Linked DNA regions of Homo sapiens: region 1 is linked to region 2. The links come from fine-mapping of genetic effects on gene expression. A gene starts in region 2. The other region holds a variant in brackets. All regions are shown on one strand. Distances are from middle to middle.

What was found. PIP is the estimated chance that this variant, and not a neighbour inherited with it, causes the effect. A credible set is the group of variants that fine-mapping cannot tell apart.
Region 1: its variant is the best candidate, but not a certain one, in a credible set for the expression of LINC02389 in prefrontal cortex (ROSMAP, PIP 0.74).

What each region holds. Positions count from the first base shown.
Region 1 is chr12:64,948,104-64,953,488 of GRCh38, reverse strand. All of the region lies in intron 2 of LINC02389 (long intergenic non-protein coding RNA 2389), which reads right to left. All of the region lies in intron 3 of LINC02231 (long intergenic non-protein coding RNA 2231), which reads left to right. Among named protein-coding and RNA genes, the nearest start is that of LINC02231, 41 kb to the left of the region's middle. The variant T/A (reference allele first, on the strand shown) is at 3,377.
Region 2 is chr12:64,880,484-64,885,868 of GRCh38, reverse strand. LINC02389 (long intergenic non-protein coding RNA 2389) reads right to left here and starts at 2,095. Exons shown (of 3, transcript NR_033988.1): 1 at 2,004-2,095. It overlaps TBC1D30 (TBC1 domain family member 30), which reads right to left. Exons shown (of 12, transcript NM_015279.2): 12 at 4,836-5,385.

The sequences.
Region 1 (5,385 bases), 68 kb before region 2:
AATAGTGGAAATTACAGTTGGTAGTCAACAAATATTTGTTGAGTGGCTTCTCTGTGCCAAGCATGAAGTTATAGGGCAAAAAACGTTTAGATTGGAGGAAACCAATATCTACTACGAGTAGATTCTTGAGCCTGTTCCAGAAAGGCACAGCATGACTGAAATGGTTGCTGAAGAATAGAGGACAGGGGAAACGATCCAAAATAATAGTAACAGGTACTCCATGAGTTGAAACTTGTGACTTGTCTTTGTTTTTAGTTTCTATCTTGTGGAAAATTTTGCTGTTTTCACTCTGTCACAGAACAGATGGAACCATGATTTATGATTCACAGTTTATGAAGCTGATGTAATATTCTACCACACTTTGTGACCCATCATGTTTCCCACATTTGCAATATTTTTCTTCTGGGACACTTGTCACAAAGGGATCACTGAGATGTTGGGATGAGAGTGGTTCAGCCATTATAAAATAGGGAAACTAGTGATATCACAAGGGTCATTCATGTATCCAACAAATATTTATTTGGCCCCTTAATGTGCCAGGTACTGCTCTAGGGACTAAGGATCCAATGGACAAGTCAGATAGGTCTTTACTCTGTGAAGCAGAAAAATAATAAACAAGTAAATAAGCAAACAAATGACAAGATCATTGTATAGAAGTTCTTTGGAGAAAATAAAAATGAGGTAATGTTATAAAGAGTGACTGAAGGCAGACAACATTGAATAGGTTGGTTGGCCAGGCATGGTGGCTCACGCCTGTAATCCCAGCACTTTGGCAGTCCAAGGTGGACAGATCACTTGAGGTCAGGAGTTCAAGACCAGCCTTGGCAACATGGTGAAACCCTGTCTCTACTAAAAAAAAAAAATACAAAAATTAGCTGGGCATGGTGGTGGGCACCTGTAATCCCAGCTACTCAGGAGGCTGAGGCAGGAGAATCGCCTGAACCCAGGAGGCAGACGTTGCAGTGATCTAAGATCATGCCACTGCACTCCAGCCTAGGTGACAGAGTGAGACTCCATCTGAAATAAATAAATAGGGTGGTCAAGGAATGCCTCCCTCAGAGGTGTCATCACAGCTGATGCTTAAATGATGAGAAGAAACTGGTTCTTCAAAAGTCGTAAGGAAGTGTGTTCCAGATAGAGGGAACAGAAAGTACAAAGCCAGGAAGAAGTTTGGGATGCACAAATGCAGACTCAAGGCAAGTGGGTTGTATTCACCAACCCATCTTTGTATCCCCCCCACCCCTGCTTTCATCCAGCTGTTGATGCTGATACCACTGGGGTCATGAGCCAGGATGTTGGCTTTATGCTGTTTAGTGCATCAAATTAAATACTTCCTGGCTCCAATTCAGAAGCTTTAGTGTGGCTCTGGTGGTATTCTGTTTCCTATTTCACACTACAGTTCACAAGAAGTCGACTAGCAGAGCAATCCCAAGGGAATACCAGCCTTGAAACATGGGAAACAACCCAAACATGAATGGCAAAAGATCAGTAAGAGGTGGTGGTGATTTTCCTCCAATTAAATTTGTTTGTAAGGAAAAAATCTATTGTTTTCTAGGTAAATCTGATGATATAGTCACAGCAAAAGTATAGTATATTCATGGCAACACATTTTATGAACTATTATTCCAGTATCTATGTGAAGCAATAAATTATTTGAATTACACTGTACACTCTTCACTAGTACTCTAAGTCCATCATTTCTTATCTACAATTCTGGAAAAAAAAATTTATTTTGAGACAAGATCTCACTATGTTGCCCAGGTTGGTCTTGAACTCCTAGGGCTCAAGTGATCCTCCCATCTCAGCCTTCCAAGTTGTTAGGACTACAAGCTACAATTCTGAAATGTTTTTAAAAATTTGAAAACTAAGTATTTTTCACATTGCATAATGTGCAAAAGCAAACTTATGCTCATGAATTTCAGGGTATTTTCATAATTTTAATCTTAACACAACCACCCTCAGTGGGCCTGCCAATATTTTAATGAGTAAATGGTCAAGAGATAAAAAAAAAATGGCTAACTAGGCAGTACAAGATAGTGAGCTAGGCTTAGCTTCTCTTACTGATGTATATTATATCCATTGTAATTGTCCACCAAATTCTAACTTGCACAAGAAAAGAACACGGTAAATGTACAGTGTATTCATGACAACACACTGTGAACTTTTATCCCAGTGTCTATGTGAAGCAATAAATTATTTGGGCCATAGGTATGTCCTAGTAGCTATTGTATCCCCAGCACATAGCAGTAACTGGCACATAGTAGACATTCAGCAAATATTTATTGAATAGTTGGTCCATTGTTAATACTTGGCCACAATGATGCCCACTGCACTTGCTGTCTTAAATGACAACTACACATCAAATCCTGATGCAGTTTCTTCTGAGTTTTCTGCTGATTCAAGGTCAGGATATCCTTCAAACAGATGTTTGCCATTCCTGAGGCTCGCATGACATTCTGATGGCAAAAAGAAGCTGGTTTCCTGCCAAAGCCCAATTTATACTTTCTGGAGAGTCTGCTAGCTCTATTTTTCTAAATAAACACTCAATTGAACAGTCCCGTGACTCTCTGATCCAAATAAATACTTTGAATCATTAACAGTCTCCACCAGCAACGCTAATGAATTTGAATTCATTTTTAGTCTCTTTCTACTCAGATCTTATCCCCTTCTTTTTTTGCCCTCCACAGCTTCCACAAAGACTCTTATGAGCATCCTTTTGATCCTCATGTTTGTTCTTCTATTGACTGAGCCAAGAGCATCAGCAGGAACTACAGCCTTCCCAGATGCTGTGGCTATAGCTCCTTCCCTTTCTATCTCATTCTGCGGCAGGTCCAGGAAAGTAAAGCTCTGCTAGCACAGTTTCCCATAGATGAACCACAACAGTCACTTACTCCTTTGAGCTGAGAGGAGATGAGAGCTCTGTCTGCTATAGTTAACCTGCCTTGACAAAGAACTTAAGCTTAGCTCTGAAAGCCAGGGACCAAGGAGCCATGCAGAATACAGAGGATAAAAAGGGGTACATTTGATATGTTGTATGATCTATAAAATAGCACATCTGGGTGTTTATTTAACTGACAACCAACAGATAAATTTTTAAGACAATTAAGGGCATTAGAAAACATGATTCCCACTATATAGATTCTTAAGTGAGTGGGGTTGAGAAATATTTTCAGGTTTAACAGTAAATATGTGCTGGGTTCTTTGAATCTTATTTTTTTTAAAGTGCAGAAAACTTAGAAAGTACAACAAAGCATTTTAAAAAGAAACAATTTCTGCCTCTCAAGCTACAGATAATGTCTTTTTTCTTTTTCAAAAAATACAATTTTTAGGCTAGCCTGAAAAAAAAAAATCTGTATGGACCCCAAAGGTCTCCTTG[T/A]GAATGAAAATGCTGCTAACGGGAGTTTTGTGTTATGTGTGGGCACTCAGAGTTTTCAAGAAGACCATGAAGGAAAGTTTTCAACTGCTGAGGGCTCCAGACTCCCTGAGAGAGGGGAAAAGGAAACCTTTGGGGTTGATGATCAGAGCTTCACGCCTCAAACACTTGAACAATCTTGCCTCATTTCCTGAACCTGAACTTATTCATAAGTTGGGGTGCTTCTCTAGAACTCTAGCAAGCTAGTTATGAAACTGAATTATCATAGGAATATTTCCACTGGAAGGTTGGTGGAAAGCCCTGTCACTTAAGGAGGCAAAAAATGTCCTTCCATTTTGATCTGTAAAGAACCCTTAGCCAAGCTTGGAAGGATCATGGTGCTTTCTGGAGCCATGGCAGCATAGATGGGGTTCGAAGGTTTGTATACCTCCAGTGTTTGTGCTATATAGGCAGGCATGAGACTAGGAAGCAGGTCACATATATGCAGAGCAGCAAGCTCAAGCACTGGCTCAAGCAGACTGGAAATAGAAACGCCAACCAAGGTTGTATAGGAAATGTGGGCAGAAGTGGTTAGAGGCCCAGGAAATTTCTTTCCAGCCTATTCCAAATGTACAGTGGCAGGAACAAGTATAGGACCTCCCTTCATATAGAAAGATAAAGAGAGTGTCACACATTAGCATGCCAGGGAGGCTGGACAAGGCTACTCTGCTTTGTGGAGCTGTGCCTTGTAAGAGAAACTCCTAGAATCAGAGCCCTGCAGAAGCAGCAACCACCAGTGATAGGGAAGATGGCTGGAGCCGGGGCAGAGCCAAGAGGAAGCAGCAGCAGCAGCAGCAGCCACATGGAAACCATGGGGAAAACAGAAACCAGAGGGAAGGAGCGTAGCCCTCCCTGGCCACACACATGGGTAGGTTGCAATAGGCCAATAAGGCTAGCGGGTAGTGGGCTGGTGGAGTGGATTGGATCACAATTCCCAGTCACAATAATAAAAACCAGTAGGGGATTGATCCCATGTGTGACTATGGCTGATGTGACTTGAGAATGAAAAAGAGTTTCTTGAGGGAAAATGTTTGGTTCCAGAACAGGAAGGCCACCTGTACCAAAGATAAATACTGATACTTTCCACATCCCTAATTCCAAGACTATTCTTTAAATCCCATCAGCTCACCTGGAACTTCTGTGGTCCCCACTGCCTGCCCAATGTGACAGTCAGCAGAAGCTTAGCTCCAAACCCATGCCTGTGAGGTTGGACTCCAGACTTGATGGAGTATACGTATCCAATGGCAACTCAAAGGGGAAATATTAAGAGTGACAAAAAGGAGATTCTCCAACCAGGGACTATTATCTTCATGCCTCTTGGATATTGCTTATTAAACCAAAAGGTAACTGACCCAAAGAAAATAACCCATCCCATCCTTCTCTCACGATACTCGACTTTTATACCCTTAAATGAAGGATGCTCTAAGTACAGCCAGAGTTTGGATGTAGGGGAGTGTGTGTGTGTGTGTGTGTGTGTGTGTGTGTGTGTGTGTGTGTGTGTGGCATAAGCAGCTGAGACTAGGAAGCAGGTGACATATGCACAGCATCAAGCCCCAAATCTGGCACTGACTCAAGCAGATTGGAAGTAGAAACGCCAAGCCAGGTTGTATAGGAAATGTGGGCAGAAGAAGTGATTAGAGGCCCAGGAAATGTCCTTCCAGCCTATTCCAAATGTACAGTGGTATGAACAAGTATAGGACTTCTCTTCATATAGAAAGATAAAGAGAACGTCACACACTAGCATGCCGGGGGGCAGGACAAGGCCGCTGTGCTGTGTGGGGTTGGGCCCTGTGAGAAAACCTCCTGGAGTGGGAGCTTAGACTACACAGCCAGGGGCTTCAGGACAGCAAGATGATAGAAGGCCAAGCTGGGTGCAGGAATGAATGAACATAGGAAAAGAGGCCATTGAGAAGGATGCTGAAGGATACCTTTGGTCGCAGACTGCTTCCTGAAATCCCAGGCCTATCTGCAGG
Region 2 (5,385 bases):
AATGACCTTAAATCTATATACATGTCAGTAAATCAGCATGAACAAAGTCAAAAGATAATTGACAAAATGAGAAAAATATTGTGACACAGATTACAGACAAGGATGTTTTTCTTAACGCATAAAAAACTCACAAATCAGTAAGAAAAAGGCTGGGTGTGGTGGCTCATGCCTCTAATCCCAGCACTCTGGGAGGCCGAGGCAGGCTGATCACGAGGTCAGGAGATCAAGACCATCCTGGCTAACATGGTGAAACCCCCATCTCTACTAAAAAAAAAATACAAAAATTAGCCAGGCGTGGTGGCGGGCACCTGTAGTCCCAGCTACACGGGAGGCTGAGGCAGGAGAATGGCATGAACCCGGGAGGCGGAGCTTGCAGTGAGCCGAGATCGCACCACTGCACTCCAGCCTGGGCAACAGAGTGAGACTCCATCTCAAAAAAAAAAAAAAAAAAACCAGTAAGAAAAAAAACAGCAAGAATGAGCAAAGCCTATGAACAAAGGACATATAAATAACTTTTAAATATATGTCAACCTTATGCATATTTTTCAAACATACATTAAGTACTCACCCAATCAGAAAAGATCAAAAAATTTGATAAGATTCTCAGTAATGTGGGGGTAGGAGGAATTGGGCACTTCCTTACATTGCTGATGGAAGCAGAAACTTATGGAACATCTGTGGAGAGCAATTTGGCAACATGTATCAAAATTTTAAATGTGCATTGTTGACAAGTAATTCCATGTCTTAGAATTTATTCTTTAGCTAACTTCCTTATTAGCAATATTACATCATATGTACAAGGATATGCATATTCCATAGATATGAAATTGGAAGCAAACAAATAATCTAATAATAGATTAGAGAATAAATGTATTGTGCACAGACCTGAAATGGAAATCTATGCAGCAGTAAAAAAGAACGAGGTGGCTCTACTTGCACTGTTCTGGAACAATCTCCATGGTACATAGTGAAAAAGGAAAGTTCAGAAGGTTATTGTGTTACTGCTTACGAAAGTGTGTGTGTGAGAATGTGCTTGAATATGCATAAAACATCTCTGAAAGGATACAAAAGAAAGGAGTAACATCGGTTTCCTGTGGGTAGAAGCTTTGAGTGGATAGGGGACAAGGGGTGGAGGGAGACCTAGTTTTCCTATGTGCTTTTTCGTACATGTTAAATTTTCACCTTGTGCAAATATTATCTACTTAAAGTACAAGTCTAAACAATAATTTTATAATGTTCTGCTCCTTAAAAACCTTTGAAAATCATTGAGCTACATGATGCCTAGGATTGCCATTAGTAATGTTTATTATTGTGATATAACCACTTTTTATTAAATAATATCATGATTCTGTAATTTGTTTCACACTTGACAAATGTACTAGAAATTCTGCTCCATAGCTATACATGCAACAAAAATCTTTACACTTTTCACCATCTGTTAAATTCTGTTGCATAGACATTTGTGGAGTTCATCACATACGTTATATGTAGCTCAACCTTCCCCAGACCTTAGCAACTTCTTGGTCCAGATAGGGTCCCTGCAGCAACAATGACTCAACACCGTTCTCACAGACATATTTTGAAACAGGGCCTATAAAGTCCTCCCATCCCCTTAACTGGGCAAGGTTTTCTTTTTATATGTATATATATATATTTTTTTTTATTATACTTTAAGTTCTAGGGTACATGTGCACAACGTGCAGGTTTGTTACATATGTATACATGTGCCATGTTGGTGTGCTGCACCCATTAACTCGTCATTTATATTAGGTATATCTCCTAATGCTATCCGGTTTTCTTGAAATCTTCAGGGGGTGCCTCTCATGTGTTCCCAAACAAGTATGCTCCCAGCAGGCACTCCCACGGCTCTGCTGAACACTGCAGGTCCCGTGAGACCCACTTTCTCACCCAGCCCTGCTGCTTCCCCGCAGACGCCATTAGAGATGCCCTAGAGCCCCCCCCCCCCCCCGCCCCCGACCCCCCGTGAGAAAGCTGCCGCTCACCTGGGGGAGATGGAGCGAATGCCACGCTCTGTTTCCATTGCGTTCTGTCAGACAAATCCCACAAATATGCTGCTTGGGCTCCCAGATTTTATGGAACTTGGTGACACAGCTCTTCTTGTTTTGCTCACAGTCACTCTGCCCTCAACAGGACTCCTCCGGGAATGCAGATGGAACCGGAATGGTAGACAAAACTGGGGAAAGACAATCACCTCTCCTTCTGTGATGAGAATATAAGACCAAAGAAGACTCAAAGGGCTTGAGGAAAGAACCATCTTCAGAAAACAAGAACCATGTTCCTTGACTCTGTCACCTCTCTACACCACCTATTATTATCATGGGAAGACGGAGCCAAAACTGAGAGAGCAGTTTAGGAGAGGTTTGAGTCACTGGAAAGTAAAAAATAATCCTGACTACTGTTCACTGATACAGCCACCATTTTGCCCTTATAATCTGTAATCTTCACAACACCTCTGTTTCAGTTAAGAGTTTTTCAACATGAGTGGTAGAAAATCTGACCAAACTGGCTAAACCCCAAAATTGGAATGTTAGCTGATATAGTAAATAAGCTGAGACAAATTGGCTTTGGGCGTGGCCTGATCCAGAGCTCACAGGCCCTGAAAGCAGCCTGCTTTCTCTCTGTTTCTCAGCTCTGCTTGCTGAGTGTTAACTCTTCTCCAACAAGCTCTCCCCTCATGGTTACAAGAGAGCTGCCAGCAACAACTCCTGGGCTTTTTCCTTCCAGGTTAAATTCTGTTGCATATTCATTTATGGAGTTAATCACATAAGCTATATGTAACCCAATTTTCCCCAAACTTTAGCAACTTAGGACCAAATCCAGTAGAAATGAGTGAGTCTGCTTACGTGAGAGTTCAAAACAAGAGCCTAGGAATTGAGCTTCTTTTCCTGTGGCTCATCCATGGGTCAGACACCATGGTGAGGAGGAGGAAGAGTGCTGAGTGTCTGAGCTCAGGCCCTGTGCTCCCTCCAGGGCCATCACTGTCACCGGAAGTACATGGGCAGAGGTGGAGGAGGGCTGGCTCCCCAAGCAAAATTAAGGCAATGTTGCCAAAGCATAGTAAATTCTGGGCAGCAAAGACGGCAATTGTCCACAACAAACCCTATGAGATTGAAATTATTCTCATTGTACAGATGTGGAAATTGAAGGTCTCAGATGTTAAGTAACTTGCCCCAAATCATATAGTGGCATAGATTGGATTTTACCTCATTAATGTGTGCGATGAGACCAAAAGGATAGGTAGGTATCTGCCAGGCAGACTGAAGCAAGGAGGGTGCTCGAAGCAAGGATTTATGAATACACAGCAGTATGAGGGCATTAGCGGAGTGGGGGGCCTTCAGGGAACTTGGAGTTATGGGCAAAGTTATAAGACAGTGTAGCAAAGGAAAAGCTCAGGCTCTGGTGTCAGATAGATCCAGATGTTATTTGCCAGCTAAATAGGTTGCAGTGAGCAGGTTGCAGTGAGCTGAGATTGCGCTACTGCACTCCAGCCTGGGCGACAGAGCAAGACCCTGTCTCAAAAACAAAAAAAAATTACTAAGGGAGGTTTGTTTGTTTTTTTGCTTTGTTTCACATTTTAATATAGATTTCTGGACTCTCCAGGGATAGAGAGATTCCTAGGTTGAGGTATCAGGAAGTTTCCTCCCAGAAAACTGTTGATCACATAGGGGAATTCATCCACCTCCTTCCAACTGGCCAAGGATGTAACTGCTCACTTCACCTTCATCATCTGTAATACAGTGCCAGTAAGCTTCACAGAGCTCTTGGGAGGAATAAGTGAGATAGCACAAAGGAGCTAGTATAGTGCTGAGCTCAAGGAGCTCCACCAATGGTTGATATTATGGTGCTGGTGAGGATAGGTTGCACGAGGTAATGAATGGGGAAGCTGTGGGAAAATAAGACGGAAAATTAACCATGGGTCAAATCATGCTAAGATAAGGATTTTAGCTTTTACCCTCCAGAAATTGAAGAAAGATTTTGACCAGAGGGATGGCCCAATTAGTTTTTCATTTTAGAAAGATCATTCTGGCAGCAGTGTATAGCCAAGCAGCAGAGAGGTGGGGTGGGCAGGGGGAGGGTCCAAAATGGATGGCAGTGAGACCAGTTAGGAGACCATTACAATACAGTCATGTGCCACACCACGTTTCAGTCAACGATGGACCTCATGTGCTATGGTGGTCCTGTGTGATTGTAATACTGTATTTTTACTGTACCTTTTCTAATATGTTTAGATACACAATTACCATTGTGTTACAACTGACTGCAGTGTTCGGCACAGTAACTTGCTATACAGGTTTGTAGCCTAGGAGCAATAGGCTACACCATATAGCCCAGGTGTGTAGTAGGCTATACCATCTAGGTTTGTGTGAGCACACTCCGTGATATTCGCACAATGTTGAAATTACCTAACAATTTCCCCATCGTTACCCCCGTCATCAGGTGATATATGGCTATAGTTAACTTGTTCAGTGGTTGCTAAACTTAGTTCAACGTTCAAATTACTAAGGAAGGCCAGGCACAGTGGCTCACATCTGTAATCCTAGCACTTTGGGAGGCCAAGGTGGGCGGATTGCTTGAGGCCAGGAGTTCAAGACCAGCCTGGTGGACATGATGAAACCCCATCTCTACTAAAAATAGAAAAATTAGCCGGGAATAGTGGTGCACACTTGGTAGTCCCAGCTACTTGGGAGACTGAGGCAGGAGAATCACTTGAACATGGGAGGCGGAGGCTGCAGTGAGCCAAGATTGTGCCACTGCACCCCAGCCTCGACAACAGAGTGAGACCCTGTCTCAAAAAGAAAACAATTACTAAGGAGGTTTTTTTTTATTTTTTGCTTTGTTTCATGTTTTAATATAGATTCCTGGACTCTCCAGGGATAGGGAGATTCCTAGGCTGAGGTATCAGGAAGTTTCTTCCCAGAAAACTGTTGGTCCCATAGGAGAATTGATCCACCTCCTTCCCAGTGATCAGCATTGCCTAAAGGAAAACTAGAATTGTTATAGCAAGGATGTAAACACTAAGAAACAAGTGAACTTTCTGGTTTTTTAATGTTAAAACAACAACAACTCTTGAAGCCCCTGGGGCACAGGTTGGTGTAGCTAGATAAAGATTGCCTGGGATGGAAGGGATGGAGAGAATGGAATCAAGTGACACTTTGCAGGTCATTTGGTCTCACCAGAGCAAACGACCAGGAAGGAAGCAACCTTCAACGTGATGGTATTTGAAGGCGGGGCCATTGGGAGGTAATTAGGTTTAGATGACACCAGGAGGATGGGACCCTCATGATGAGGTTAGTGCCCTTATCAGAAGAGGAAGAGACCAAAACATACTCCCTTTCTCCATTGTGTGAGGACACAGTGAGAAGG